Linked DNA regions of Homo sapiens: regions 2, 3, 4, 5 and 6 are each reported to be linked to region 1. Evidence: microRNA targets listed by miRTarBase, many of them from high-throughput screens and not tested one by one. Region 1 holds a microRNA gene; each other region holds the end of a gene's coding sequence. Distances are from middle to middle.
The links. The annotated mature microRNA hsa-miR-29b-3p reads UAGCACCAUUUGAAAUCAGUGUU and lies in region 1 at 3,102-3,124, opposite strand. An mRNA with a match to its seed (bases 2 to 7 or 8) in the 3' UTR can be bound and repressed. Matches are read on the target gene's strand: a 7mer-m8 pairs with bases 2 to 8, a 7mer-A1 pairs with bases 2 to 7 and ends in A, and an 8mer does both.

Region 1 (5,086 bases):
GGGCACCATCATACTAGAATAAACTCAAAAATACAACTTTTGTGTTCAAGGAAAACTCTCAAGCTCCATCGAAGTATGGACACACTAGTCTGCCAGGTACTCTCCTGAAACTACACACCAGCTTCTCAAAGTGAAGGTCTGGGCCAGTATGTTACACAAATAATTGTCCAGTTCTAGACTTATTTCTGTTTCACCTAAATTGGCCAAATATTTGACTTGTCTCATCCATATTTATTAAGGACTCATCAGTGTTTTACTTCCACAGGTGGGATTTTCCAGTCCAACTTGCATGAGTCTTGAAGGTGCTGTCAGTCTAATAAGCCTCCCCACTCAATATTTTTTTCATTATCTATTCACCAAGACCCGCTTATAAATTTACAGCTAATAAAATCTGGTAAAATTTAGATAAGCAGGACCCATGTCCTACAAAGCATTTTCTACCTAGGTTGATAGCATGGCTTCATAAACCCGATTCAAGATGCTGTCTCTGGAAGAAACAGTCTACATAATTACCAATTTATTGTGCAAAACCACCTCAGAATGGCAATTTTAGATAAAGAGCTGTCCGCATCCAAATGAATAAAACAAAATAATCCTGTTTGAGGCACCGCAGTTACATTTTGCTTCTCACGACTTAGCAGTGTGGCACTATTTAAGCATTCAATGAGAGTGCTATAAACTTCTTTTATAGAAAAGACGTCTCAAATCATTGTTTTTGTGCTTTAATGCTGCACTCAATTTCACACTTACTCGTTTGAGGACTGGAATCAGGGCCTCCTGAGAGCAAAAATCTGTCGTCTGTATTTGCAACACCTAGGCTGGAGCTTTGAGCGTGGTGGGCGGATCAAAAACTGTTTAATTGGTAGGTAGTACAACAGACCCCAAAAATGTCTGACCTATAGGTATTTAATACTATTGTAGCCTATCTCAGTGGGAAGTGAACAAAACAATATAACTTAGGGTCTTAACTAACACCACCACTTAGGGTCTTCCCACCACATCCTGGGGATTAGAACATGGGTTCTTCCATCAACAGCCTGAAATAGCACTGCAGCTGCAGTGAGGGGGTGCAACATATGTACTGGCAAGTCTTCCCAGCAAATGCTACTTCCGCCCCCCACTCTCAGCCCACTGGGCAGGGCAGCCATCTAGAGGAAGACTGTGGCAGGGGGTTGGGCTTAGAAATGGCTTCCTAGGTGGCTGATTTGCCATCATTTATTGCAAGCCACTGGCTTAAAAGAGTTCTACTGAGGGTAGTTCATAGTCATGCACCTCCTGTGCAAAAAGCCTGATCAAGGGGCCACAGCCCGCCTTCCTGAAGATCCTACAAGCTTGATCCCCTATCAAATCAAATCTGGCTAATCTCTGAATAGCTTTACAAAACTGGCTCACTGGGCCAGGCGAGGTGGTTCACGCCTGTAATCCCAGCACTTTGGGAGGCTGAGGTGGGTGGATCACGGGGTCAGCAGTTCGAGACAAGCCTGGCCAACATGATGAAACCCCGTCTCTACTACAAAATACAGAAATTAGCTGGGCGTGGAGGTGCCACGCCTGTAATCCCAGCTACTCGGAAGGCTGAGGCAGAATTGCTTGAACCCGGGAGGCGGAGGTTGCAGTGAGCGGGGACAGTGCCATTGCACTCCAGCCTGGGTGACAGGGTGAGACTCCGTCTAAAACAAACAAACAAACAAAAAAAAAAAACAAAAAAAAACTGGCTCATCTTGTTTTGAAGTGTTGACATAAACTAATAGTCAAAAGCACCACTCAATCTTTTATAATGCAAGTGAAATCAGTGCTGTGCCCCTTCAAGGAACCATGTGACAGTATGTTTAGTTGAGCACCAGTTCCTTGCAGGAACAGTTGCTGGCAGAAGGGCTGTGTCTACAGCCCATGTGGAACTAAGGAGTTTTCCCATTCAGTAGGGAGCATCCCTCAGCCTTGATCTTCAACATTTCTTCTCTTCCCTAATCTTTTCTCTCATTTTATTTCTTGGCTCATAGAATTTCATTCTTCTCTTAATGGGCTTCATTTTTAATGTCTGGCTGGCTGTAACCTACTTCAAATTCTTTATGAAGTAGGCAAGATCTGCACAGCCAATTAATTTTTCAGGACCCACTTCTTATCATCACAGAATTATGAATGGGAAATAATAGATGAAAAACACAGACATGATAAACTGAACATAGTATTTATTAAGGTCAGGATGCATGAATAGACTCTTCTCAACAGAAAGATAATTCAACAGCAATCAATTTACAGAATTTAGAACAGCACTACATTTCAGCAAAATGCAACTAGAGAACATCAGATAAATTATAGTAATTTGTTTTTAAAAATCCATTAAACTATCTCTTACCTCTGCAATAATGTATCATACATGCAGTTACAGAAGTTAGTAGGGAAAAGCATGATCTTCCTTCCCTATTCTCTGCCCATCCATCTTCCAGGAAACCACAGGCTGCTGCTGCCCAGAGTTGGCATGAGGCTTCGAGGCTGCTGCTTTTCCCCCTACATCATAACCGATTTCAAATGGTGCTAGACAAAAACAGACTCTGAACACCAGGAGAAATCGGTCAGCCTGTGTAAGAGATGGGCCAGTGGTGCTCCCAGGGTCTGCACCTCGACAGTCCAGGTGGCAAGTCTGATTTCGGGTGCCCCGCAATCAACGCCGAATACTCCAGGGCATCCTCTAAGAGCAGACTGATGGTGTCGATGTGGACAAAATGGTCCTCCAGGTGTACTGCCCTCTCCCCTGCCCCATGACAATCGACACCCAATACATTGTTATCCAACAGAATATGACAATCGCCACACTCAAAGGCCCTACGAACACATTCATGCTGGTGATGGCTGCTAGGAGTCAACAGAAATAGCATCACAACCTCTGCCCCTGCTCAAGCCACTGTGTTTATTTTAAACACAACCCCCTTCTCTACTGTCACCTCTCCCAAAACCCAACAAACTCAAGAGTGTATTTTGCTCTTCAAGTTCTTCCCTGGACTTCTCGAACAGACTCAAGTGGCAAGAGGAGAGGAGCCAGTTCCATGAGCAGCAGTTCCTCTGCAGTCCACCCTTGGCTGTGCTGCAATTCTTACTCCTAAAACACTGATTTCAAATGGTGCTAGATACAAAGATGGAAAAATCTAAGCCACCATGTGAAACCAGCTTCCAGAAGAAGAGGATCTCAATGAAGAAAGAAGGGAGATTCAATCGGAAGACCCAGCCTCTGCCCTGAGGAGAAATATCTTCTTGTAGTTCTACTTGTGATATGACACAGTGCTCCATGGGAAAGGCACAGAGGAGGTTACACAGGGCTGCACAAGGCAACATGAAAGGCACAGCTGATGCTTCAAATAGATGAGAGCAATACAAAACTCATTAATTCTAGGTTAATTCTATTTAACTTCACACCAGTCACTACAAATTATTATATATGATGAAATAAAAGCTAAAATTATTACTAAAATACATTAATATTTACATTTGTACTGCCCTGCATTTGTATAGTATTTCACAGTACACAAAGTGTTTCCAGATATATTCTCTTACTTCATCAGGACACAAGCACCCTATCTGCCTGTGGAATGAAGCTCCAGCTGCTACACAAAGGCGAGTCTCACCTGGGCCAGGACAACTCTTTTATGTGTCTTAACTTGAGAAAAGCATGCATTCCTCCTTCCCACCCCATATGTAAGTATCAGAACATTCAAATATGACCCCATGAACCTGCAATCTTATTTAACCCCGATGTGACTTCAAAAACTGGTACCCTATAATTGTATTAAGCAGATAATCCTCTAACGTAAGAATTGAGTTTTATTTTCAAAGTCTGCTTGAAAATAAGATTTGCACACTGTATTCCAAATTAGATTTCCCATCTCCTTACTGCATCATCTTTTTTGGTGGTTTGAAGCTAAGAAAATATGTGTATTTCCTCTGATACCATAACCAAGAGAAAAGAGACAGAGTAGACACTGTATATTTTAGCTTCCTTTCAGGCCTCTAGATACAGCCTTATAATTTTTATGGTTCCTGGCACTAACAGTATGTGTTGCTAGAAGGAGAAGAAATAGAATTTGAACATCAAAAGTTGCGGTGTTTAATTCTCACAACAGTCGTATGGGGCAGGTATTATTCCAATTTTTGCGAAGAAATTCATCCTTAATGAGGCTAAATAACTTGTCTGCAGTCACACAACCAATCAATGCAGATCCCAGGTCTAACTCCAAAGACTGTGTTTCTGCCCTTGTATCCACTGCAGCCTGCTCCATAACTTGACTATCATCTCATTTTGTTCTTGAACTTCATTAAGAACAAAACAGGGTGGGTGGGGCAGGAAATTCCTAGGCGATACTTCTGCACTGAATGGGATCATACTGACTACATAACACGTTATACTTAGGGGGAGACAGGAGCATCATCTGGGTTCTGCGAAAGCCGGGTGGTCTGGGGCAGCTTGCTTTGTTCTCCTGCTCCTCTAGCGCCTTTGCCGTCTTTCCCCAGCATGTGGCTGTGGGAAAGACACTGAAGATGAACCTGCAACAAGCGATTCTGACACCAGCGCTAGGCTCTACAGCCCACGGGGGACTTGCTAGCCTCAGTCACAGGTGGGAGAGCTGGGGCAGATCTGCACACAAGGGCTCTCAGTGATGACACCTGTAGCCAACACCTGGGGCTTGTTAACCAGGTAACAGCCAGGGTTGTAAGGTCAGGAGTGAGTGTTTAAGGACAGTTACTACTGGGAGTCCAAATCCTGTCAAATGAGGGGATTTGATGAGATTCTCACTTTTCTGCTTTTCATTTTAGCCACTCTTCCTTATCAACTTTTAGTTACCAGTACCCCCTCCCTATGAGCTATCACACAGGTGTCCCGCAGTGATCAGAAAGCACCTTCCTCCATGGCGAGGTCCTGCCTGCCTAAGCTGTTGTCTCTTCTGGAATACTCTCCTTCACCCTCCCTTGGCTACCACCCCTCAGCCCCGCCCCCACCCACCACCACTCCAGGGAACCTGTCATCCTCCCCGCAGCTCAGGAAAGCCTCCCTGAGTCCAGCCCTTGCTAGAAGGTTAAGTGGTCCTCGCCAGCC
Region 2 (5,000 bases), not on the chromosome of region 1:
GATGACACAAAATGGAGCTTCCTGGTGAGTTTTTAAAACATCAACTTCTGTGGACCCAAGAAGAAATTTAGGTTAGCACCAACTAAAAAGCAGCCTCAGTGGCATCGAGTGAGCAAAGAAAGCTCCTTCCTTTAGTCCGAACATAAGGGGTTACCAATGAGAGGCAGAAGCAACGCTGGGTCAGAGAATGAAGCCCCTGCCCACCATGGTCCCAGCCAGTGCCAGGGGAGGAAGGAGATCCATCTGGTCTCCCTTGGTGTGCCCTTGGGACTCCCAGAGATGTCTGCTTAGCACCCTGGGCTGCAGGAGAAAATCTGTCCCTGGCTATGAGAATGCCTATCATGCTAGGAGAGGCAGAAGTACCCAACTCCCCTTCCTCAAAAACAAAAACTCAAAAAACCCTTCGCCCTTTCTTTCACATCAAGCCTGAGAAGACAGGTGTGGAACCAAAAAGCACCTGCCAAGCCAGGCAGGCCCACTCCCGATCACAGAAAGGGAGATAGCTGCCTTCTCGACTTGCTTTGTTTGGCCACCAAGGGAAGAACAATACAACACAACACAACACTGCTCAGAGCAGATTATAGCACGGTAAACGGGTCTAAGACAGCACCAAAAGAGGGGAGGGAAAAAAAAAAGCCAAGAGACTGGAGCCCACCTTGTTTTTGGTTGGTTGTGGTTTCAGAACGTTGATAGCACCTCAGCAAGACAGGATCAGGGACAGTCACATTAAAACACCATAGCACCATTTTATTTAGACTATTTCAATTCATAAAAATGCTTCCTAGTCCATAAAACACACTTCAGTAACAAAAGGAAAGAGATACTGGTTGAGGCACGTCAGGGATATCATATAGTTTTCCACCAGCTTTGCCTTGGTTTGAGATCTCATGGTGATTAAACCTCTAGAAGCAAGTCTGGCTGGGTTTCTCTCAATGAAATTAGGTTATCATCGACTCATTGTCAACCGTCCTTGCACATCTACTGCTGTGTGGTACAAAGCAGTTAAGCTCTGCTACTTCTTTCCTTGCTTTAGCGCTTTAAAAATCCCTTGCTCTGCAAACTACTGTTCCCAAAAGAGGCTGGTGGAAGGACCAAGAGGGGGCGGTGGGGTATCATCTCTTTCCACGCACACCATCGTCACCTTGGTGAGAAGGCAAAGCAGTACCCATGAAGCCGGGGTGTGGGAAACATTGGCCCTGCTAAAAGCCAGACCCAAAACCAAAAACCGAAAGACCCCCAAATCCATGCAACACCTTTAGTCAAGATTTCTGATGGTCAGATGATGATTTCTTGAGCTAGCACCAGTTATTTTGTGAGAACCTGCTGCGAAGCGATTTTTATTTTAAAAATCTCGTAGCACAGAACTTTACAAGCACTTCCCTTGCACGCAACAGGCAGGGAAAACAAAACAGAGCAGAAAAGGAACCAAATGTTTGCACTGCACGTGGATGGTGTCCGTGGACAGGGCACACTGGGGAGATGACTAAGACGCCATCGATTTCCGTTGCTATAATATGACTCTTCGAACTTGGTCATGCTGTTAGGTTCTTTAGTTGCAATGGCTTTATTTTTCTTCTCATGATAAAAATGTCTGTTAATCATCTTTAGGACTTAAAAAATGATAGTGCCAGTAAAAAATAAAAATTTGATTTTTCTCTTTAAGAAAGCTTCAGCAGCAAGGGGGGGATAAAGAGCTGTGCATAGTTACTTTTTAAATATATGTCTAAAGCATGCTAATTTTAATGACTGAGATTTGAGGTAGGTTAGACATGTAGTGTACAAATCAGCATGGGCTTGAGCACGGCAACCACACCGCCTAACTCTGGAAACGCCATTCTGCGGGGAGTGGGGACATCCAATGGAGACTGCCTCTTGACTCACCTCTCAGCAGCCTATCTCCTACTGCAGAAACTGATGAACCAAGGCTGTTTGGGCTGGGGGACAGACGTCGCATGCTTTTAGCTTGTATTGGTTTCTCCTTTCATCTAATGGCTTTCCTACCAAAGGGTGATGAGGGGAAGAGTTTATTTAACATACATCAGGAAGATTCACACATGCCAAGTATCAGAATCACCTGGGTTACACTCGGGACCTTCCAAACCAACAGCCAACCTGGGGCTTCCACGGGTCATACAGACGGTCACATTCTCCAAATGTTTCGTAAAATATTGTATTTCTTGCTTAAGATCATTTAAAATGAAGTTTTCAAGGCACCCCCGCATCTACCTAAGCACGGAGTCAAATGAGACCTGCATAAAAGTACTGATGCGATAAGCAAAATAGCATTTAAAGGACCCAATTTTTCCTCAAAACTAGAAAATTAGCATGCTCATTAAAGACTCTGCTTCCTTTAGCTTGTCAAACTGAAGGTCAGAGGTTTTCCTATAAATCTGAGTTCTGAATAATTCTAAGTCCTGATAAGCTCTTGGGTATTTATTTCAAAAGCAATAATATTTCATTTTTTTGTCCTGTAAAATAAATGCAACTTTACAGAATATGGTAAAAGTGGAGGATAGACAAAGCACATTAAATATTCGGCTACTATTTACAATTTCTCCCACAATTACATGTTAAAACATACTTTTTTTTTCAAGTTGCTGTTTAAATCTAGGCAAAAGTGCTTAAAAAAATCTTTCACTATTTACAGTTAAAACCAGACCACATAAATGCTCAGGACATCTTACAACGACCCTCCGCCAGTGCTTCCAAACAGATACAGTAAACACCCAGCAGGCCGGTTCTCAGCTCTTACTCAAGGCACCCGGAAGCTCAGGAACTTGCCTATAGCGGTCATCTGATTGTTAAACATGATTCATGAAGACCCATATCTGAATACAACTGCTCAGTAAATACCTGTTCATCTCAGGGCTTGGTGGTCATCCACCGTGTGGCCACATTCCCCTCTGTGTGTCCTGATGAAGCCCCCCATTCACCACACACACATCCACATGGCTAGCATGAGATCATTTCTGCTAATATCACAAGAAAAACCAACACTCCAACAAAGTTTGACTTGGTGATGATGAGTGTTGCTCCCATCAGGCCCAACCTCTCTCGACAACGTCACAAAAATTAAGCACCACATTCTCATTTCAAAGAACCGAATGAATGCACCAGAATTTCAGAACAGCTATATTAAAGTGGATGAAGAGGGGAGAAAGGAAAAAAAGAAAATGATCAAATGGAGAAATGGCACCAATTAGGGAGGAAAATTATAGCAACCTGTTGAAAATGTTTGACTCTTGCACTTTAAAATTGTTAAGTGTAGGCCCCCGAACCCAATGACAGCATGGAGGAAGCAGGCTCAGGTGTGAGGCATGCACCATTGTCCAATGTGGAAATTCAGGGATCAGGATAGATGCATTAACTGTTGTTACACTGGTCTGCTGAGCTCCTGTAGGATGTGACCTGCCCAAGAGTCAAGAAAGTCCCAGCACAACACTACAGCACCAGGCTCCGCACAGCACCATGCACAGAGCACCACTGGCTTTTCACAGCTTGGGTTCAACTTCCTGTTTTTAAAGATACAGTAGCCCTTTTTCAGTATCAGCATAGACTTTGGGGGCATTTTTTAAAAAACTGCCACTAAGACAAATTCCTTCAGCTCAGCATGCATTGGCTTGGCAACATGGTGGGCACGGCCCCTAAGAACCTCGCACTCCAGCTCCAGCGTGAGGTGCTGCCTAGTGAACCATGACATCGTGTGACTCCATAAATAACGGACAGAGGATTCAGTGTGGAGACTAGCAAGCTTGAAGCCATCTACTTCCAACCTGGTTTCTGGGGAAAGCTATGCCAGCATCTCGTGGGGCTGGCCTGGGGTGCATCTGCCCTTCGACTCCAAGCCGGGGACTGGAAAAGGGACCCCAGATGGTTTTCTGCAGACTCTCCCATCCTATCAGAGAGGACAGAAGCTGTCCTGAGGCTCCCTTCCCCAAAGGGAAGGGGTGTATGTCGGGAGGGATGAACTGGGTGGCTACCGTCCGCGCTTGGCTCTCGAGGGGCAGATGGCTGAGGACCTCGCCAGCGCCCGAGGGGCTTGGCTCGCCAGACCCAGCGAGACTGGGCGGGGGAGCACTACTGGCCTTTCCTGCCCATCCTTTACCATTACTATTGTCGCTTTTAAAAAATCCAATAAATACACATTTTAAATGGAATTTAAAACTACTCCTTTGTGAAAGGATACTATAAACTTTCTTTCCATTATTGTGATATACAAGGATAGAGTTTTAAAAACAAAGAGAAAATAAAAATAAAAACCCCCCAGACAAGGGGGGGGGACAACTTGGAGATATAAATATTAAGATCACGGAAAAATCACCCGACAGCCGTAGTTTCTTCTTCAAAGTGCTGGGGAAGTGGGGGTAAGGGAGGGGCGGGTCAGTTCTGAGGTTTGGACCATAAATACATATATATGATATGCGCATCTATATATGTATATAGAGATAAAAAGACTTCTGCACCCCCAACCCGCCCCCAGGTATGAGGGCAAAAGCACCACAGAGACAGCTCGGGCCAGGCCCGACGCTGAGGTACGCTGGCTCCCTGGCACCTAGATCCAGCGGCTGTAGGGGCCAGTGACCTTCGTGTAGGCATAGGAGGACACGGTGACCGCCGAGTCTGTGGGCACAGCCAGTGCCTGCCGGGTGGGGACGACCCCCTTCTTCTCTTTCTGCTGGGGCTCAGCAACCACAGTGCCCCCCCACTTGCGCTTCTTCCCGTAGAGCTTGGCCTCCTGCTGGCCCAGGCCCAGCCGGGCAGCCTCCTCCTGCCGTGCCCGTGCCCTCTCCGCCAGCTGCTTCATCTTGGCTTCCCAGAGGGCCAGCCCGTGGTTGGGCTGGTTGAGGTTCTTGTGCTGGTAGAAGACCAGCGAGATGCGGGTGGGGTGGCAGCGGTTGGGCTTCTTAAGCGGCGTGGTGGCGTGCAGCTCCCGCCGGGCACACTCGATGAGGATGGAGCCGTGGGCTGGGGCCACGGCCACGCCGCCGATGTTCTCGTCC
Region 3 (5,086 bases), not on the chromosome of region 1:
AGCATACTGTCATTTATTCCTCCCACCAGTTCTATGAGGTGGGCAGTCTTATTACCCCCATTCCACAGATGGAGGCGCCAAGGCTCAGAGAGTTTCAGTCATTGTCCCCAAGGCACATACAGCTGGTGAGCAGTGGAGTTGGGATCCAAACCCAGGACCCTGGTCCAGATTCCCCTCCTGTCCCTTTCCTGAGCCCAGAAGGTCCATGGCAGGCCTTGGTCAGTGGGGAGAGACCTCCCCAATGGTCCACATGCTGACGAGGTCTTTCTTTTTCTTGTGCAGCCAAAACGCCCCAAACTCGGGTGACCATTCGGACGGTGCGAGTCCGCCGGCCCCCCAAGGGCAAGCACCGGAAATTCAAGCACACGCATGACAAGACGGCACTGAAGGAGACCCTTGGAGCCTAGGGGCATCGGCAGGAGAGTGTGTGGGCAGGTGAGGGCCAGGCGGGGCAACTGAGGCCCAGAATCCTGTGTTTTCTTCTCTGTGGTCTGTGGATGGGGTCAGGGGAAAGGATTTTTCCATAGAAAATCCAGCCTCTGAGCCTTGGTCCTCCCTGTCCAGTTATCAGCTGGGGCAGGGTGGGTGGTGGGCTTTGGAGACCCCAGCCCAGCTGTGTCCCAGCATGCCCTAAGAGGATGGGAGGTCTAAATCTCAATCTTCCCAGCCCCTCAATGCCCCCAGCCCTGAGCATTGCTGGAAATCAGGGGTGGCTAGTTGACCCCAGCTCCCTGCCCCTGGCATCGGGGACATATGAACATGGGATGGACCCTCTAGGCTGTCTCTGACCCCTGTGTCTCTCTGCTTGGCCTGCAGGGTTATTTAATATGGTATTTGCTGTATTGCCCCCATGGGGTCCTTGGAGTGATAATATTGTTTCCCTCGTCCGTCTGTCTCGATGCCTGATTCGGACGGCCAATGGTGCTTCCCCCACCCCTCCACGTGTCCGTCCACCCTTCCATCAGCGGGTCTCCTCCCAGCGGCCTCCGGCGTCTTGCCCAGCAGCTCAAGAAGAAAAAGAAGGACTGAACTCCATCGCCATCTTCTTCCCTTAACTCCAAGAACTTGGGATAAGAGTGTGAGAGAGACTGATGGGGTCGCTCTTTGGGGGAAACGGGCTCCTTCCCCTGCACCTGGCCTGGGCCACACCTGAGCGCTGTGGACTGTCCTGAGGAGCCCTGAGGACCTCTCAGCATAGCCTGCCTGATCCCTGAACCCCTGGCCAGCTCTGAGGGGAGGCACCTCCAGGCAGGCCAGGCTGCCTCGGACTCCATGGCTAAGACCACAGACGGGCACACAGACTGGAGAAAACCCCTCCCACGGTGCCCAAACACCAGTCACCTCGTCTCCCTGGTGCCTCTGTGCACAGTGGCTTCTTTTCGTTTTCGTTTTGAAGACGTGGACTCCTCTTGGTGGGTGTGGCCAGCACACCAAGTGGCTGGGTGCCCTCTCAGGTGGGTTAGAGATGGAGTTTGCTGTTGAGGTGGCTGTAGATGGTGACCTGGGTATCCCCTGCCTCCTGCCACCCCTTCCTCCCCACACTCCACTCTGATTCACCTCTTCCTCTGGTTCCTTTCATCTCTCTACCTCCACCCTGCATTTTCCTCTTGTCCTGGCCCTTCAGTCTGCTCCACCAAGGGGCTCTTGAACCCCTTATTAAGGCCCCAGATGATCCCAGTCACTCCTCTCTAGGGCAGAAGACTAGAGGCCAGGGCAGCAAGGGACCTGCTCATCATATTCCAACCCAGCCACGACTGCCATGTAAGGTTGTGCAGGGTGTGTACTGCACAAGGACATTGTATGCAGGGAGCACTGTTCACATCATAGATAAAGCTGATTTGTATATTTATTATGACAATTTCTGGCAGATGTAGGTAAAGAGGAAAAGGATCCTTTTCCTAATTCACACAAAGACTCCTTGTGGACTGGCTGTGCCCCTGATGCAGCCTGTGGCTTGGAGTGGCCAAATAGGAGGGAGACTGTGGTAGGGGCAGGGAGGCAACACTGCTGTCCACATGACCTCCATTTCCCAAAGTCCTCTGCTCCAGCAACTGCCCTTCCAGGTGGGTGTGGGACACCTGGGAGAAGGTCTCCAAGGGAGGGTGCAGCCCTCTTGCCCGCACCCCTCCCTGCTTGCACACTTCCCCATCTTTGATCCTTCTGAGCTCCACCTCTGGTGGCTCCTCCTAGGAAACCAGCTCGTGGGCTGGGAATGGGGGAGAGAAGGGAAAAGATCCCCAAGACCCCCTGGGGTGGGATCTGAGCTCCCACCTCCCTTCCCACCTACTGCACTTTCCCCCTTCCCGCCTTCCAAAACCTGCTTCCTTCAGTTTGTAAAGTCGGTGATTATATTTTTGGGGGCTTTCCTTTTATTTTTTAAATGTAAAATTTATTTATATTCCGTATTTAAAGTTGTAAAAAAAAATAACCACAAAACAAAACCAAATGAATCCGCCGGAGGTCTGTCTGTTGGCATCGTGCGTGACAATTAACCTTTCTGCCTTGGCAGGATGTGCCGACAGCTTGCGGCGTGTTCCTCTCACTCTGGGAGCCTCAGGCGTGATCTCACACACTGGCGTGCACATACACACACACACACATACATGCTCACACATGCGTGCACATACACGCAGGCCTGCAACTTGGGGGAGGCCTCTGTCTGGCGGGAAGAAGAGACACACAGGCTACTCTGTTGGTCTTGGTCCTGGCACAGCTCCTGACACGTGGACTTGTGCGTGTCTCTGGCAGTGACGAGAGATGGGTTTCTGCAGCCTGAGGGTCTCCATAGAGGAAGTGGATCCTCAGCATCGTGGGGTGGGCTGGATGTGGGGAGGGAGTGCCCACTGTGGGGAACACTGAAGGAAGTCCCAGAGGGGATGTGGGATTTAGAAGGAAACAGTGGAAAGCCGGGTCTGCGGTCTGGTCTTGGCTTAGCCCTTAGCCAGCTGTGTGGCCTTGGGCAAGTCACAGACCCACTCTGGCCAGAGAGGATGAGGAAAGGTGCGTGGGCTCCAAGCTCCTGTGTTCTGCGCTTTCTCTTGCTCATGAAGACTTGGGTACCAGCCCATAAAAAAGAGGCTAAATGTATTCTAGGTCCCACCTGCAGCGTGGACTGGGGCTGAGAGGGACCCAGAAGCTAAAGATCTGGCTCATAAGGGCAATCTAAAACTAAAACCATTTTGCCACCTGAAGTAGTGAGCTCCCTGTCACTGGAAGTGTGTAAGCGAAAACTGGGGAACAATGTGGCTGAGGTTAGACTGAATAACATTTGGGCTCCCAGCAATTGATTGATCAATGGACTGATTCATTCCTTCACTCACTCACTTTCTTGAACCTCTGACATGTGCCTGTCACGGCCAGGAGATTTTATAGTCATTTGATTTGAATTCATCCTGGGGTTCCTAGCCCTGCCCTTGAGGAAGTAGAGTCTACCCATGGTGGTAGTGGGCCGTGCACATCAGAGGGATCTGTTTACCTGGCAGCTCCTACCCCTGCCTGCCCAATCGTGACTGGGGCCTTCCCTTCTCCCCTAAATCCCCAGTGTTCTCAGTTTCCAGGGCACAGGAGAAGGATCTGGCTGGGAGGAGGAAGAGACAACTCCACCAGGAGACGGACATCAGAAGTCAGCTGGAGAGCCCAGTGCGTGCAGCATCCTGGCAGCTACCAACAGCTGGTCTGTGCCATGGATTGCTGCAGGCACTTCCGAGGCCTGGGTGCCCATTTCCTGGGTGCCATCCCATACAGCAGCGCAGCAGAGTCCGTGGGCCTTCCAGGGGCCCGGTGGGCTTTTTCAAGGTCTTAATGTTGCCAGGCTAAAATGGCATTCTTCCAGAAACCCCTTTGCTGGAGAGAAAGCATTCTTTTCTTCATGCCTTTCCACTGCACTGTTGGCTGTAATACAGATGTGATGTCTGGTGCTCAAGCAGCCATGTTGAGCCATGAGGTGAAAGCCACATGCTGAGGATTATGGAGCAAGATGGAAGGCAGGGTCCCCAATACCTGGGCTGCCTTGTTCAGGAGCTTTCACGGAAGAAAGAAACTTCTTTCTGTTTGAGCTACTCTGGTTTTGGGTTTTCTGTCCCTTGCAACTGAACCTAATCCTAATAGCCCCGTTTACTTTGGGAGAGAGAGAACATGGCTGCTGGGCTGGTCCTTTTCTCTCCTACCCTCCTCAGGCACTCAGCTTCACCTTGCGAACTCTTAGGAACTCTCCTCTGTTCACTCAGATCCTCATTTCCCCAAGGTGTCTTCTTGGTCCCGGCCCTCAGCCTTCAACCAGAGCGTGGAGCTGTAGCTTTCTTTGGACAGCAATTTTTGCTTTTGTAAAATAATAAAATGTGAAACATTTACTGCTACTAAAGTAAACTATCCGTGAGCTCCTAGTACACATAAGACCGTTTTTGAGGGATGAAGGAGATAACAGACAGGACAGGGACAGCACGCAGGCTTAGGGAGGGCACGCAGGCTTAGGGAGAGCATGCAGCTGCTGGTGGCTAGGTCCAAGCTCCACCCTTTCCTCCTCTGCTGACACCATGTCTGGTGTGTTTCCAGTATTTTAAAGTGTCAGCTCAGGAACCCCAGAACCCCAACACCTGTCCATGTACTTGGGTGACAGCCTTGACCCGGCCACATTGTTACTGATGATCCTGGGGAAGTCCCTGCTTCTCCCCAATCTCAGAGGAGCTGTGACTCACCCCTATGCTGCCTTCAGGCATCCATGCAAGTGACACCCATCCTGTCCCACCTGCCCCTGCCCCAAGCCCCCCTTTCTCACTCTGCTCTGTTGATCTCTGTAGCATCTGGCCTCATCTGGCTCACTCCACGTGTATATCTCTCCTCATCTCCCTTCTCCACTCCCCATGGAAACTCCACCTGGAGTTACCTTGTTCACTACTCTGTCCTCAGAGCCTAGAACAGTGCCTCGTACCTAGTAGGCACTCGACCAGCCTGTCAAATGAAGCAACATACAAATCTGTTATTGGAGCAATCAAGTATGTTGGCTCCAAGTCACAGCCTGCCTGGCTGGTCTTCATCACACACACTATGGTGTGGCTGGAAAATGCAAGACTCTGAGTGTGTCACTACA
Region 4 (5,083 bases), not on the chromosome of region 1:
CTGGGTAGGAGACAGGACACCAGCCTGGGTTTTGGAGCCAGACAGATTGTGGGGGGTGATTGGTAAACCCCAAGACCCCCAACTGTTCTTAACCACCGGCCATCTGTCTCCCTCTTCCCCAGACCAAGAAAGGCTACCAGAAGACGGTTCTGGAGATCGACACCCCCAAAGTGGAGCAGGTGCCCATCGTGGACATCATGTTCAATGACTTCGGTGAAGCGTCACAGAAATTTGGATTTGAAGTGGGGCCGGCTTGCTTCATGGGCTAGGAGCCGCCGAGCCCGGGCTCCCGAGAGCAACCTCGTGACCTCAGCATGCCATTCGTTCGTGAGTGTCCCGTGCACGTCCTGACCCTGGACAGTGAAGGCTTCTCCCTCCCCTCCCACCTGACTTCATCTACGCCTCGGCACCACGGGGTGTGGGACCCCAGCCCGGAGAGAACAGAGGGAAGGAGCCGCGCCCCCACCTGGAGCTGAATCACATGACCTAGCTGCACCCCAGCGCCTGGGCCCGCCCCACGCTCTGTCCACACCCACGCGCCCCGGGAGCGGGGCCATGCCTCCAGCCCCCCAGCTCGCCCGACCCATCCTGTTCGTGAATAGGTCTCAGGGGTTGGGGGAGGGACTGCCAGATTTGGACACTATATTTTTTTCTAAATTCAACTTGAAGATGTGTATTTCCCCTGACCTTCAAAAAATGTTCCAAGGTAAGCCTCGTAAAGGTCATCCCACCATCACCAAAGCCTCCGTTTTTAACAACCTCCAACACGATCCATTTAGAGGCCAAATGTCATTCTGCAGGTGCCTTCCCGATGGATTAAAGGTGCTTATGTTTTTGTGAGTTTTAAGTAAATATTTGTATTGTATTGTTATAAATGTTAAGTGTGCCTGGCTTTCAATCATGCACGGAAACCCAGTCTCAGTCCCACGGACAGAATGGGCGAGGCATGGATTCTGGGTTGCAGTACCGTTCTGATTAGAAATAGGAAGTCTCCCCACCCCCGCCCTGGCCAAGAACGTGCAATAAATTGGAAGTTTGCCCCGGGGCAGCAAGAATTTATGCTGCCATTGAAAAGCAGGTACCAGTGCCCCTTTTCAGACAGTTTTTGATTCGCTCTAGACTTTTTTTTTTTTTAATAGGGAAAAAATTTGATAATTTTCTTTTTTCTACATGCACTTAAGACTAAAACACAGGTTTGGATTAATTTTATTTGCTTCCTTTTTCCGCTTTTCTTCCCGCAGAGCCTGATGGGAGAATGTCCAGGGCAGGGAAACCACATTTTTTGTAGGTGATAACTCAATGAAAATTGGTGCTTATTTTTTACACTTCTCTCTTGTGGCTCTCTTGTGGTGCTATCTATCTGTTTTAAGGTCTCCTTGAAGGCGCACTGGGGACCCTGGCCATGCCTCGTTCTCCCTGCTTTCTTTATCCTGTTATTGCCTCCACAGTCTGTTGCCAAGGACTCTAAGATCAATGCACGTCACTTTCCTTTCCACTGGGCAGGATAGCCAAGCACACTCCCTCCTGCGCTCTCCCGCCCCGGTGCGTCCACTCCCGAGGGCTGTTATGAGGACTGGGTTGTGCCTACTTGATTTGAAAACACACACAAGCAATAAAAAGCCTCTTCCTGCATTGTCTGTGGTGTGACCATAGCAGATTATATTTGGTTCCTGAATGTTTGTGGTGCTAATTTCTGTGTTTGTTCCAAGCCGTTCAGTCATGCCATGCGCTGCCTCGGTAGATGGAGTAATGTACAATGAACTCCATGAGTCTCTCCAGGGCTGCCTGCAGCACGTCTTTTCCAAGTAGCCTATTTGGATTCCCATCTCAAATGTCCTGGATGCGAGCGTCAGCGGCTCCAGAGCTCGGGGCGGGTGAGGTCCCCTTTGGGGAACCCTTTCCTGGCCATCGAGGTCGGGGGGCTGCCGTCTGTGGGCAGGAGGACCCGAGGGGCAGCCAGGAAAGGCGATCTCTTCACTGTGAAAAGTTGCCCGGGTGCAGCGCCTTTTCCTTCTACCATGGGAAATGCAGGCTGGGCCCTTGGGGTGAGCCTGCGGGGCTCTGGTGCTGTCCCCGACCCCCACCACCACCAGAATGCAGTTCCAGCTTAGGAAGCCACAAACAAGCCACCCAGGAGGAACAAAACACCGCCAGCGTGGATTTTCCAAATTTCCCTGGAAAGTAAGTCTCGCTCTTGCCAAAGAAAAGTCTGGCTTGGAGAGTCTCTGGAGCCCAGGATGCCAGCATGTGCCAATGACTGTCACCTTCATCTCTTCAAAAGAAAAGCCATAGCCGAGGACTGTCCCGCGACCCCCGTGGACTGCGTCTAGGTCATGTGATTCTGTTTTCATTTCTCATCCCATCCAATTTGTCCTTTTCTCCTGTCATTTTCTTCCTCTGTGGTCCCTTCAAAGTTGTTATAATTTGTACTGAACTTCAAAATGTGTCCCGTTCTCCCCAGACCACTCTAGCCACAGTATATTGCAATAAAATTACTTCTTATATTTGCAGAAATTCTTTTGGTGTAATTTTATTTTTTCCTCTCAATATATATAATTGGACAAACGCTGGCAAAAAGAAAAAAATGGTAAGCAAAAAACCCAAGATAAAGTTTCGAGGACATCAGGCCTTTTGAAATACAATGTCAAATGACACATTGTACGGTTTCAAAAAATCCGCTAGACATGTCATAAGTTTTAACTGTAATGCCCAGGAAAGGATATCTTAAAATATTCTAAACTTGTGTAACAAAGGAATAATTAACTGTAATAGTTTTTCAATAAATCGAGTTGGGTGTTTCCACCGTAAACAGATGTGAGTGACTCTCTTCTTAAGTGTGGCCAGGCCCCTCCCAGACAGGACTGCACACAGTCCCAGGACGCTAGGAGCTCTGGAGATAACCACACTGGCCACCCAGAGAAAGGAAGGGATGGCCCCGGCTGTCCTTAGGTGGAGCTTGTCCCTCAGGAGTGGCCAAGGCTGGCATGGACAGCTTTGTGCCCTTGGGAGGATGTTAGAACGTAACCGGGCACTAGCCCGAGAAGTGAGTTTCAGCCACTGCTGGGTGTCCACACCACCGTGTACTGTCCTCACTCTTCACTCCTGGCAGTCAGCACCCTGCGAGAATGTTCTTGAAGCTCTCCAGCACTGCCCTTCCAGCTGTGTAGCAGGATTAGACTCCCTAGCTCCTTGTGGCTAGAGGTCGGGGAAGGCACGGGGCTCGTTGCAGCCGATGACCTTGAGCCCACGTGGCATTCGCCTCTTCCGGTCTGAAGGTGTGGTTCCCTCGGGCACAGCACCAGCCATGTTTCGTGGAGGGGCTACGTCACCAGCAGGTTCCCTGAGTGAGCCCCCTGCCAGCTTGTGAGAACTGGTAGCAGGAGCAGGAGAAGCACATTTTTGTTTTATTAAAGCCACTGATGTCAGGGACTGTTGATTACTCTGCCGAATAACCTAGGCCAGTGGGTCTCCAGCAGGGTCCGGGGAATGGCAGCAATGGCACCACCTTGTTAGAAGTGCCAGTCCCTGAGCCCCATCCCAGACCTGCTGGCCCAAATGTTGTGGGAGAGCTGAATCATCTGAAAGCAGGTCTCTGAGCAACTCTGCTGCACGTTCAAGCCGGAGAGCCAGTAACCTAGGTGATCCGGAATTGTGTAGGTGCTTAAGGACGAGGCGACTTTCACAACAGAAGGGTGGTCTGCAGCATTGCCCAGGGAAGCTGGGGCCATTGTGAGAGGATGGGAGGCTGTTGACCCATGTCATCCACAGGCAGAACATTGGGTACAATTGTTTGATCACTGTGATAGCTCAGAGGTAGATTATGAACTCATAACTTGCAACCCTTGGGGAGGAGGCTTGACATGAAATGATGGTGGGCAGGCTGGATGCCTGAATTCCATGTGGCAAGGTACCACGTGGCAGACCAGCTCTGGAAAGAGCCAGGAATGAAAGGAAACGGCCCACGAATCAAGGATGCGCAGAGTTGGAAGAGGCAACCGTTTCCCAACATCAACTGTTTAAAGACCACATTGAGAGACGCCTTGAGGGACAAACGCCAGTTAAAACTCAGTCGTCATGAATTTGAGCAGCCCACCCCTTTCTTAAAATCCTGGAGTAGATTAGGATGGCGCCTAATAAATGCATTTGAGTTGGGAAAGCGACTCCGGCAATGGACGCTCACAGTCGTCAAAGGTTGATGGGTCTGAAGGTCCTTGCCATCGAATCCAGAAGAGGAGAGAGAGCAAGGCAGGTGGGCGGACAGTCGGCGTGGTGCCTGCTGGTGGAGCGGCCAGAAATGCACAGGTGGGCAGCTGATCTGTCCTCCGGAGAGGCATCCTGCAGAGGGGCCCCAGCCTGGTCTGGAGGAGTCAGTGGCTCAGACTCACAATGACCCTTTGACCATCCCAGGCAGCAGGAGGCTTGAGGTCCACTCGGCCGGTGGCTGAGCCATGGCACAGTTGTGGCCCAGAGTTGTGGGACTCCCCTCGCACCCGTCATGCAAGGGGACTCCCACGATTTCTCGGGGTTGTAGGTGACAGCTCTGGGAAGTTTCCTGGGGAGAAGGAACCCTGGAGGGAGGGTGCATGCCCCCAGTCTGCCTTCCTTGCCTTCCTCCTCCCACTGGCCCCAAGGAGTTCTGCCACCACATCCATTCATTCATCTGTTCATCCATCCATTCATCTATCCATCCATTCACCCTTTCATCCATTCATCTATCTATCCATTCATCTATTCATCATTTATCCATCCATTCATCCATCCATCCATCCATTCATCCATTCACCCTTTCATTCATCCATTCATTCATCCATTCATCCATCTATTAATCTATTCATCATTTATCCATCCATCCATCCACACATTCGTTCACCCTTTCATTCATCTGTTCATCCATTCATTCATTCATCCATCCATTCATCCATCTATTCATCATTTATCTGTCCATCCATCTATCCATCCATTCATCTATCCATCCATCCATCTATTCATCATTTATCCATCCATCCATCCATCCATCCATCCATCCATCCATCCACTCTTTCATTCATCCATTCATTCCCCCATTCCTTCAGTGGCAGTTCAT
Region 5 (5,086 bases), not on the chromosome of region 1:
TTTAAAAAGCTTAAAAGTTACATAGGCATCTTCAAAAGAACACAATGGGATTCATTTTATTGTTGACTTTTGGACACCAGTGTCAGACTTTATTGAAAACAAACCCATGTAAAAACAAAGTTAAAATGAAAAATGGCACCTGAAAAATAAATTATTTTATATAAAACAAATCAATAACTTAAAACACACTAATATACAAAAGGTCTAACCATCTACTGTACAACATGGGAATCGGTTAAGAGAGCCTCCCCTCCCCCAAAGCAAGTCACTGTAAACGGAACATCACATGGTCATGGTCAAAGAGGTGGCCCCAAACCAACGGAAAAGGCTTCTCTTCTGGTGGAAGAAAAATCCAGTCCTGTCAAAGTCTCCGTTAGCCTAACTTAGGTACTGGCGGTGACTTACAAGTGAGAAAAAAAAAATTTGTTTTTTTAAATGGCCAAGAAAGAAACCTGAACGATGTCACTGAAAGGTTGTAGAAAAATAGGATCCAGCCATTAGAGGTCAGGGGAAATCAAAAAGGTTTGGAAATGTGAACCCTGCCTGGGATCCGAGATTCAGATTCTACTGCCATCATTACACGCCAATTGCCAATGCCACTTAAAAGAAAGCACTTGTGACTTCAGGGCTGTCTTGCGAAGTTTGGGGACAGGAACCCCTGACCCCCAGAGTCAGCTAAACCCCAGGGGTCTCTGCTAAGGAGCTGCCTCAGGTCCTAGTAGGTGAGGTAGGTCTGGGGAAGATGGGAGGGGATTGAGGTGGAGGGTGGGGTGGAGGGACAGGATAGAGGCCTCCTGTCAGCTGAATTCTTATTCTCTTTCATCCAACACAGGAAGGCTGCGAAAAGCACATGGAAATAAAAGGGGGCTGAATCGGATGTGAAATGTAACAGCTGAGTGATGTCAATTTCGATTTTTCAAGTCCGATGCCGGACTGGGTAAGTCATGTCTTTTCAATGCCTGGTGGACAAATGGCCTTCATTTGGAAGCAAACCGGGTCAAGGAATTGCCACTAACCGTCTTCGGGTGCTTCTATTTCTCTGATCCAGCAGGGACCCCTGGGCTGCCGGCTCCAAAGGGCCGGTCTTGGCTCCCAACAGCAGCACGGTTCAGTCCCTGGAGGCTGGGTCTCCAGGACTAAGGCCAAGCGCAGACTCTCAGAGGTTAAGGCAGCTGCCCTTGGCCAGGAAAAGGCTCACCTTCCAGGAGAAGGTGGCGGAACCCACCCAGCACCACCTGCGGGCGGGCCCCCGAGGAAGCCCATGAATTTCAGGATATTCACGCAGGATGGTGGCCGGGGAGGGGACTCAGCACCCGGGAGGGAATCAGTCACAGAGCTGCGACTAGAGGCACAGCCAGCACAGAAAACTGCGGCTTGGCAAATTACACTGAAAACGAAATAATGGCAGAGCCAAGGGGGAACAAGGGAGAATTCATCAGGAAGCAGGTTCACAAATTCGGAGCTGCCTGGGGTCTAACTACCAGAGGAAGTTACACACGGGTCAAAAGGGAATTCAATCAAAGCCTCTTTGGTATTTCCCAAACCAGATTTTTGATAAATGAACATTATCTACTCTGAACGCTTTTTCATCGAAATTCCCAAATAAAAGCAGAGCACTCATTTTTGCTAAATAGAAATACAACTGATCTATGTAAAATTTTTTAAGAAATGGTTTCTTTTGGGTTGAGCCTTTTTTAAGAAAAGGGATCTCCCCTTTGCAAACAGGCCTTGATAAGATGTAATGAACTTTGAGGACACAGGGCCAGCAACTAGAACCTTGATGGAACAGAGATTGCTTTTCAGGAGTGACAGTTGTTAAGCTAAATCCTTCCACAAGCTTGCAAGCTAAGACTCCCAAATAAAGGCTTTGGAATTTTTTAGCTAGAAGGCTGTTCAAACAGCGGAGACCACATACAATGAGAATGTTCCTGAACTGAGAAACTTCAGGGAACTTTCAAAGGCTCATATACTTCACAGTTTCTTCTCACCTGTCCCAGCATCAGAATAATTGATAGGATTCAGATAAAAGGGGGCGAGGAAAGAAGCTGAGGTGCTACAAGCCCGTCATCATTTTCACAGTTGAAGCTTAAGACAGAGTTCTCTGTTGAATGCTAGCTATGGGCATGTGTGGGAGTGAGACTCCAGGGGGAGTTTCAGAAGCGGGAATCCCGCCTTCCATCAGAAGGGTGTTGGCTCCCACCTTCCATCAGAAGGGTGTTGGCTCCCACCTTCCATCAGAAGGGTGTTGGCTCCCACCTTCCATCAGAAGGGTGTTGGCTCCCACCTTCCATCAGAAGGGTGTTGGCTCCCACCTTCCATCAGAAGATGCTGGCCCAGGGAAACCTGAAAGGCTTCTTTTTCCAGGAAAGCATTCTGGTCCCAGGATGCAGACTGCTCTCGGGCAACAGAGCAGGGACCCTCTTTTGTGTCGAATCCGGGCAATGGGCCTCGGTTTTGGCTTTTCCTGAGGATCTGGGATTCTGTGGGAGAAAGGAGGTCCTCTCTGGCACCAGGCCGACTTTTATGAGACACAGCCTGGGTACGGATGGCAACATCATCAATTTGCAAGGATCGCGCACACAGCCCCTCAGTAAAAGATCAGGGAAAGGGGAGGGGATGGGCATCCTCAATTGTCCAGGGGCCTCTCGAGACGCTGACCTGCTCTGGGGACGGTGGTGCCTGCCTATTGCTCAATTTCACACTTCAATAAATAAATACATAAATAGGTATAAATAAACAGATAAATACAGCCATCATCTCATGAGAGCAATAACTAAAAAACAGCCTACGGTCACGTTTTAGTCTCACGTCAAGGTTAAAAACTGCTGGTACTAAGTTATCCTGTTTGTGATTCTCTCTGTAAACTAGTTATTTATAAACGCCAGATCCCAGTCCTGAGGAGTTTTGGGTGATCTGGCCCTGCCTATTTCACAGGCTTTCTCTTTCACCCTTCCTCCGGGCTCCTGGTTTAAAAGCCACCAGCCTGTAACTGCACATTCTTGCGTCACAGATTCAGAAATGCTTTTGCTTGAGGCAAGGATTGGTTTCTTAAGATCTTACGACTCCTCCCTGAATGCTGGGCCACCTGCACCTTCCCTAGCCAAAAAGAAAGAAAAGGTAAAATAAAAAACAAAACAAAATTCGAGCAAAACAAAATCAAATTTAATGGTCTTAAATGCAAAAGTAAAAACAAACAAAAAACACAAAAAAGCAAAAGAAAATTAACAGAACAGAACAACCCAAAATGTCAAGGCAGTTATGAAGAGAACTTTGAGGGTTAATCTTTAAAACTACAAATCAAAGGTTTTGGTTAATAGATAACTGGCAAGAAGTAAGTACTTTTCTGCTGAGTGTTCATACAAAAGCAAAATTCCAAAACAAAATCCGACTAAAATAGAAAAAGGTCTAAGCGCTCACGAGAAGGGATGCGAGAAATACAATGCTCAAATGTTTCTGTGTTATTAAAATACAGAGCCATTTTACGCCTCCAAGCTATGTTAAATGCTCTGGAAAACGGGAGAAATTATCGTGAACAACAGTATCCAATGTGTGGGGCGCTGTGCATGCAATGTGTGGACAGAAACTCGGGATGTCAGAGTAGCAACACATCTTCAGGCGTGCCTGGAGCTTAGATCTGACTCTGGAATATACTGGAGTTTCCCTGAAACTCTTTGGTCCATTCCCATTGGTGCCTGGGCTTACGAAACACGTTTGTGTCCTTCTCTGGAGGGCCCGCCCAGCATGCAGCCCGTGGCCCCCGGCCCCAGTGGTGGCCCACGCTGGACGGGCCCGCCGCCATTCCCAGGACCACTCGGCAGAGCCCGGGACTGAGTGAGCAGGAGGTGGCAACGGGACCTGCCTGGAAAAGGAACTTCCTGTCAACCAAAGCATACATCGCTTACAATGTTGAAGCGGTTGAGAAAACGCACACTCAGCATCTGTCTAACATCTTTAGATTAAAAACTAAAACTAAAAGGTGATTTTTTTGCTACCCAGTCTGTGGAGACATTGAATGAAACGCGTGTTAGACAGTCTTAGAGGTTAAAGCATGCTTCAGGTTCACCACCATCCAGAGGGACTGGTTAGTCAATGCAGTTCTACTTAGATTTCTGTTTAATATATATCTTAAAGGAAATAACTTACGAAACTTAAGATTGGTCTAACATTGTGGGATTTCAAACATTTGAACATGTCGGTTGCATCCCAGAGTATAAAAACCTTCTCACTTCTCATTCAGACAAAGACAAACACTTGTGAAAATTGGCGCAAAATGAGTTGTACACTAACAAGAAAAGTTTCAACTCCTTCACTCTTAATTATCTATTCCGTACAAAAAAAAGCATGAGCGAGTTATTTGTGGGACTTGTTGGTTTTGAAGGAAACCTGTAAGATTTTGTCCCCCAGGCGGTAGCCGTTCAGGCTGGCTATGGCCATCGCGGCTTCTTCATAGTTTGTCATGGTCACAAAGCCAAACCCTTTGCACTTGTTGGTGTTGAAGTCGCGGATCACTTTCACATTGGTGACGGCACCAAACGGCCCAAACATCTGCCAGAGGATCCCCTCGTCGGCATCCTGCCCCAGGTTGTAGATGAAAATGCACCAGCCGGAGGAGGCGTTTCCTGGCACGTTGACGCCAGAGAGCCCGCTCATGTGATCGACGCCCATGGGGGAGAACCTGGCAGACAGAGAGCAAGCGTCAGGCCACGGTCAGCGCAGGCGGCCTGGGGATGGGGCAAGGCCTGGACGCATGCTGACCATGGCCGCTGGGCCCCATCCCGCTCTGCGCAGCCACGAGGTGCTCACGGTTGAGACACCTGCATGGGTCAAAACCCTGGGAGGAATTAAATACAGTAGTGGAGGGGCGGGACCCTGTTCTGTAGGGAGCTGACTCTGAGGGGCTGGTTGGTGCCCTCCACTCCTCCCACTGTGTATGTCGGGGTTTCTGTTTAGGGGTTCCTGCGGTTCCCCACATTTTAGATGATGGGCGCTTCTCCTGGTCCTCCGTTGAAGGTAGAAATGCTCTGCAGGCCTCTGACAGCCTCAGTTCTCCCTGGAGGAAACTCTCCTCGTACTGTGGGGTACGTGC
Region 6 (5,086 bases), 170 Mb from region 1:
CCGCTTGAAACTGTGTGGTGCTGGCCCCTGTGGTCTCTCTCCCACACTCCTCCCTTTTTGAGGGAGGCACCAGGTCCAGATTGAAGGGGGCTGCGGGCAGTGACAAGATGCTCCCCAGGGGTGACCTGAATGACTGTGGTGCCTCAGGGTCCTCACTCTAAATGGGAGGTTTGCTTCATGGAGTTGTGGTGGTCCGTTAAAGTAAGCGATGTCTGGGGAGGGCAGGGGCCTGGTGCTGGGTAGCTGCTCCGCATATGCTCCTCCAAAGGCAAAGTCCTCCTTCTCTCCACGCTGGGCCTTGGCCCCTTTTCCCCGCCATCTGCAGGCGCTCTCTCTGTAGGGAAGATCCAGGGGTCATTCTGGTTTCAGGGGGACCTGGGTCAGGAGCCCAGAGGCCAGTCAGAAGCATGCCTCAGAGACCATGGGCTGCGGCCCCCTCCATTGACAATTTGAGGGCCAAAGAGAGAAAGGGAGCCACGGGTCCACAGGGCCACAGAGCCAGCAGGAGGCCTGCATGCTCCTCCATCCTGGGTGTTCCCAGAGCCTCTTCGTGATCCGGAACAGTGCTCTCCTCTTCCTCTGAAGTGCTTCTGTTTATCCCTTCTCTTTGTTATTTGAGGCTTTGAGTCTGTTCTACCAAAATATTCTCTCCTACCCTGACGGCCTTCCCTCATTCTTGTTCCAAAGCCTTTTGGAATTCAGATTCTGCTTCTGGAGCGGCATTCCTTAACCTGGCACAGCTTCTCCACCCAGGACACCTACCACTCCTGGTGCCCCCCCTTGCAGTCCAATGACTCCCAGACATGCGGGGAGAACAGGAAGGCTCAGGGTCACAGCCCAGCCTCCATTAAGAGCTCACTGAAACTGCCCTGGGGTAGCACAGCACCCTGTGCTTTCACTCAGGCTATGAGAAGCCTACAGTTCTAGCTTTACCCCTGCCACTGAAAAGCTATGGGACATTAGCCAAATCCTCAGCTTCCCTGGGCCTGGTTTCTCCATTGAAAAGTAGGGATAATAACACTTGCCCTGTCTGATGCATGAGGGAGTTTACAAGGATCAGATGATAGGTGAGAAAGGCTGTTTGAAAGCATAAAACGCCTGCAGAACTGTGACTAATGAAAGCTCTGTTCCAAAAAGACTCCCCGCACAGTCTGCCCCTCCAGCCTTCGCACTCTGGGAGTGGGCAGACTGCCTGTGGCTGAAGACCCACTGCCACTTCCTCTGCAACAGTGCCTGACCGAGAGCCAGCCTTGCTAGGTATGTGTTGATCATTGACTGATTGGTATGAGGATTCAATGCTTTTGCCTCCCTCCCTGTGAAAAATCGGAGACCTTTCCACCGCCCTCTCTCATTGTCAGTTAGGAGGGTCCGATTCAGTCTTTAGCAATCTAGCACCTTCTCTGCAATCATCATTTGAAATTTTGGAGTTCTTATCACCCTCCCAACTCAGAGTCTGAGATTCCCGGAACTATAAGCTTGGAATGGAGACTACTTGCCTCAGGGCGCACAGCTAGAAAGCAATACAGCCAGCTGTGTGGCCACCCCCAACGATTCTGCCTGCCCAGGCACGGCTAAGCATCCTGATCTGCAATCCCATCATACTCTTGGCATATTTCCATTCACTGCACTTATTGCGTCGTTTACCTCCTTCCTAAGGTCCCTGAGCACCTTGAGACTGTGTTAGCAGACACATTTTTGTGTTCCACCCTCTCGCCCGGGCCCTGCGCCTCTGTGACACATGTGGCTGTCCCATTTACCTGTGCTAACCACACTGAGTACAGCATCTGTCTCTTGATGCCCCTGCTGAGAGCTCTGCTAGATGCCTGGGGCGCCAGAGACCAGCGGCGTCTTCCACATCCAAATCTTCACTGTGTTTGAGGAGTTGCCTTTCATCCCCTCCAACCCTCCCATGGGCTCTCTCCTTTCTTCTCAAGCAGTCATCCTCTCATTGCTCGCGCGCCCTTGCATGTGCGTTACCAAACGCAGACCGAAATCACAGTCGCATCTCAGCCGGGCTGCCATCACCCCATGCTTCCAGGAGGACTCGCCCCACTCTATATACACTTATCTTGGGCCTGCTGCCTTGAAAACATCTGGCCTTTTGTGAGCTCAGTTAAGAGGCTGCTGCCTGTATCTGTTTAGCATAAGTTGAAACTGTAAAGTCATCTGCCTTGATGTGGAAACTTCTGGAAAACCAGAATTAGGCTGATGTAGTCTTCTGTAATGTTGATGTCTACCATGGGCTAAGTGTCGTGCTGGTTGCTTTGTGAGCATTCCCTTGTTCATCCGCTCAACCATCGCGGGAAGGACTGTGATTCCATTCCGCTGGTGAGGAAACACATACAGGTTCCCTAACTTGCTGGAGGTCACACAACTCCACATGGTGGAAGTGGGAGTGTCACCCAGCTCAGTGTGTGGGTAAAGTTCATGCTTTTTGCACTAACGTGGTCCTCTCTGTACGCCGAGTGAGCCACCCAAATAGGATGGCGGGGATCAACCATGATAAAAGGAGGAGTGACTGTCTTGACTGGATCATTCCCACCAGCCAACTAACACGCAGTGCTATCTCCCAGCTCAAAAAATAATCGTTTCCTAAAAAACAATTTTTCTTTTTTAATAGCAATACGGTCTTCCAATGTTGCCAAGGCTGGTCTTGAACTCCTGGGCTTAAGTGATCTCCTGACTTGGCCTCCCAAAGTGTTGGGATTACAAGTGTGTGCCACTGTGCTCAGCCCAATAAACTTTTTAATTGAAATTTTTGTTTTTGTTCTTATTTATTTATTTGAGATGGAGTGTCACTCTTGTTGCCCAGGCTGGAGTGCAATGGCGTGATCTTGGCTCACTGCAACCTCCGCCTCCTGGGTTCAAATGATTATCTCGCCTCAGTCTCCCGAGTAGCTGGGATTACAGGCGCCTGCCACCACACCCAGCTAATTTTTGTATTTTTAGTAGAGACGGGTTTCACCATGTTGGCCAGGCTGGTCTCGACCTCCTGACCTTGGGTGAGCCACCCACCTCAGTCTCCCAAAGTGCTGGGATTACAGGCGTGAGCCACAAAGACCAGCCTTGTTCTTTCTTTGAGACATGGTCTTGCTCTGTCACTCAGGCTGGAGTGCAATGGAGCAGGCTTGACGTCCTGGGCTCATGATCCTCCTACCTCAGCCTCCTTAGTATTGGGACCACAGGTGTGCATCACCATGCCTGGCTTTTCAAGTTTTTTTTAGAGATAGGGTCACCCTATGTTGACCAGGCTGGTCTTAAACTTCTGAACTCAAGTGATCCACTGGCCTTCGCCTCCCAAACTGCTGGGATTACAAGCGGAGCTACTGAGCCTGGCCTAGCTTCTTCTTGATGCCTTTTCTCACACCTCACATCCAATCCATCAGCAATGCCTGTTGGCTCTACTTTAAAAATAGGCCCCCAGACACCCCTGACAATCCACCACTTTCCTTTTTATTTGTTTTTAGAGTTGGGATCTTGCTTTCTTGTGAAGGCTGGAGTGCAGTCGGGCGATCATAGCTCACTGCAGCCTCGAACTTCCAGGCTCAAGCGATCTTCCTGCCTCAGCGTCCAGCTGGGACTACAGGCACGTGACACGTCTCCTGGCTAATGTCACCATACTCTTTCTTGACCAATCTACACCGCCACATTGGCTTCCTTGTTTTTCCTCCACCTTGGACCCTGACTTGTTTTATTTTCTACCTCTAAGGGTTTTACACACACACACACACACACACACACACACACACAATTTACATGTGTTATCTGTTTCTCCTACAAAATACAAGCTGTATGAAGGTGGGGACTTGTTCACTGCCACGTTCCCAGCACCAGGCACTTAGCTGGTGCTCAGTAAATACATATTGATTGATGGAAGAAGTGAACACTCATGTGCAGGTTCCTACACTCAACGCCCTGTGGCATCTCAAGCACAGTAAAAGCTCTGGACCTAGTACCAGGGATGTAGCCAGAGGAGCTGAATCTCCATTTCCAGTGTTTCCTAGAGTGTGTCTTCCTGCACAGGGAGGCCGAGATACAGGACACTGAGGCCAGACGGCAGAGCAGGAAGCATGTGGCTGACATAGGGGTGACGTGCCAGAGCACTGCTGACCGCCGCTCCCTGCCAGAAGAGGATTAACAATAATCCCAACCATTCACCCAGAGCTTTACCGTTTACAAAAGTGTTGTCACATCCGATATTGCATCTGGGCCATACAGCTGCCCCAGAAGGTGAGCAGAGGGAGGACTATGATCCCCATTATACAGATGACAACCCCGAGGTGCTGAAGGTTAAGTGTCTGGCCTGTGGCTGCACAGCAAGTGGTTGAGCCAGGTGCCAAGCCAGGACTTCTCGTCCCACACCTGCCACTGGGTCCTGCCTAGAGCAATTTTTATCAAGTGAGACCTCTGGGACAGAATGGGCAAATTTCCATTGTCTGAACAAACCAAGTAAAAAAAACCATGAATCATTTATTCTTTGGTTGTCTACACAGACACTTAAGTACTGTATCGCTGTCATGCAGCGGCCTGTGGAGGCCCCTGGGGGTGGCTGGGCCTGTGTCCTGAGCCCTCAGCCAGATCCAGGGGGTGCGGTGTCTGGTCATGTCCACTCCAAGAGCAGTAGCACCATGTAGAAGGCTGTGAGCAGGGTCCCCTCGGCTGAGTGGCAGATGTAGGCTCACTGCTCTGCAGCCCCGAGGGGCTGGCCAGCTCAGAGTGCAGAAGAGTTCCTCTCCATGGGTCTAGTCACCCATCCGTCTGACCTGGACGCTGTCATAGCTCATCCTTGGGCTTCGATTCACTGCCTGAGAGAGACTCTTGTGCAGGTTCGGGGGGGCCCTGCTGGGCATCCAGGGGCTGCTCCTGGGAGAGGTCCATCTCTTCTGGGCTGAAGAGCATCTTCACCAGGTCATCTGCCTGCACCCTGTCCTGCAAGGACAAACCCCTGCCCATTCAGAGAGGCCTCCGCTCCAGACACTCGCTATCTCTCAGCTGCTACTTCCCAGGGGACAAGGAAGGTTCCTTAATGGCCCCAGGCTCATCTCCTTCCCAGCAGGTCCTACTCTCTGGAAAAGGACAGCTGAAG

Region 2: miRTarBase lists TET3 as a target of hsa-miR-29b-3p. Seed matches in the 3' UTR shown: 7mer-m8 at 4,494-4,500, 7mer-m8 at 3,477-3,483, 7mer-m8 at 3,463-3,469, 7mer-m8 at 3,446-3,452, 7mer-m8 at 3,076-3,082, 8mer at 1,297-1,304 and 5 more.
Region 3: miRTarBase lists PDGFB as a target of hsa-miR-29b-3p. Seed matches in the 3' UTR shown: 7mer-m8 at 920-926.
Region 4: miRTarBase lists COL5A1 as a target of hsa-miR-29b-3p. Seed matches in the 3' UTR shown: 7mer-m8 at 1,308-1,314, 8mer at 1,348-1,355, 8mer at 1,682-1,689 and 7mer-m8 at 2,063-2,069.
Region 5: miRTarBase lists ELAVL1 as a target of hsa-miR-29b-3p. Seed matches in the 3' UTR shown: 7mer-m8 at 1,228-1,234.
Region 6: the mRNA of P3H1 is a reported target of hsa-miR-29b-3p. Seed matches in the 3' UTR shown: 8mer at 4,622-4,629.

Annotation. Positions count from the first base shown.
Region 1 is chr1:207,799,349-207,804,434 of GRCh38, forward strand. MIR29B2 (microRNA 29b-2) reads right to left here and starts at 3,175; the gene lies at 3,095-3,175. It overlaps MIR29B2CHG (MIR29B2 and MIR29C host gene), which reads right to left. Exons shown (of 6, transcript NR_135299.1): 6 at 2,170-3,314. MIR29C (microRNA 29c) reads right to left here and starts at 2,591; the gene lies at 2,504-2,591. RefSeq lists an enhancer at 1-46.
Region 2 is chr2:74,101,729-74,106,728 of GRCh38, reverse strand. It overlaps TET3 (tet methylcytosine dioxygenase 3), which reads right to left. Exons shown (of 12, transcript NM_001287491.2): 12 at 1-5,000. The coding sequence ends at 4,553. Among named protein-coding and RNA genes, the nearest start is that of BOLA3, 44 kb to the left of the region's middle.
Region 3 is chr22:39,221,044-39,226,129 of GRCh38, reverse strand. PDGFB (platelet derived growth factor subunit B) reads left to right here. Exons shown (of 7, transcript NM_002608.4): 6 at 283-435; 7 at 817-2,771. The coding sequence ends at 407. Among named protein-coding and RNA genes, the nearest start is that of PDGFB, 21 kb to the left of the region's middle.
Region 4 is chr9:134,842,035-134,847,117 of GRCh38, forward strand. It overlaps COL5A1 (collagen type V alpha 1 chain), which reads left to right. Exons shown (of 66, transcript NM_000093.5): 66 at 123-2,809. The coding sequence ends at 269. All of the region lies in intron 1 of LOC101448202 (a long non-coding RNA gene), which reads right to left. Among named protein-coding and RNA genes, the nearest start is that of MIR3689C, 4.8 kb to the right of the region's middle. RefSeq lists enhancers at 105-939, 3,251-3,751.
Region 5 is chr19:7,959,133-7,964,218 of GRCh38, forward strand. ELAVL1 (ELAV like RNA binding protein 1) reads right to left here. Exons shown (of 6, transcript NM_001419.3): 6 at 1-4,675. The coding sequence ends at 4,351. Among named protein-coding and RNA genes, the nearest start is that of TIMM44, 18 kb to the left of the region's middle.
Region 6 is chr1:42,741,924-42,747,009 of GRCh38, forward strand. P3H1 (prolyl 3-hydroxylase 1) reads right to left here. Exons shown (of 15, transcript NM_022356.4): 15 at 4,451-4,929. The coding sequence ends at 4,774. Among named protein-coding and RNA genes, the nearest start is that of CLDN19, 4.2 kb to the left of the region's middle. RefSeq lists an enhancer at 1-272 and a silencer at 3,261-3,461.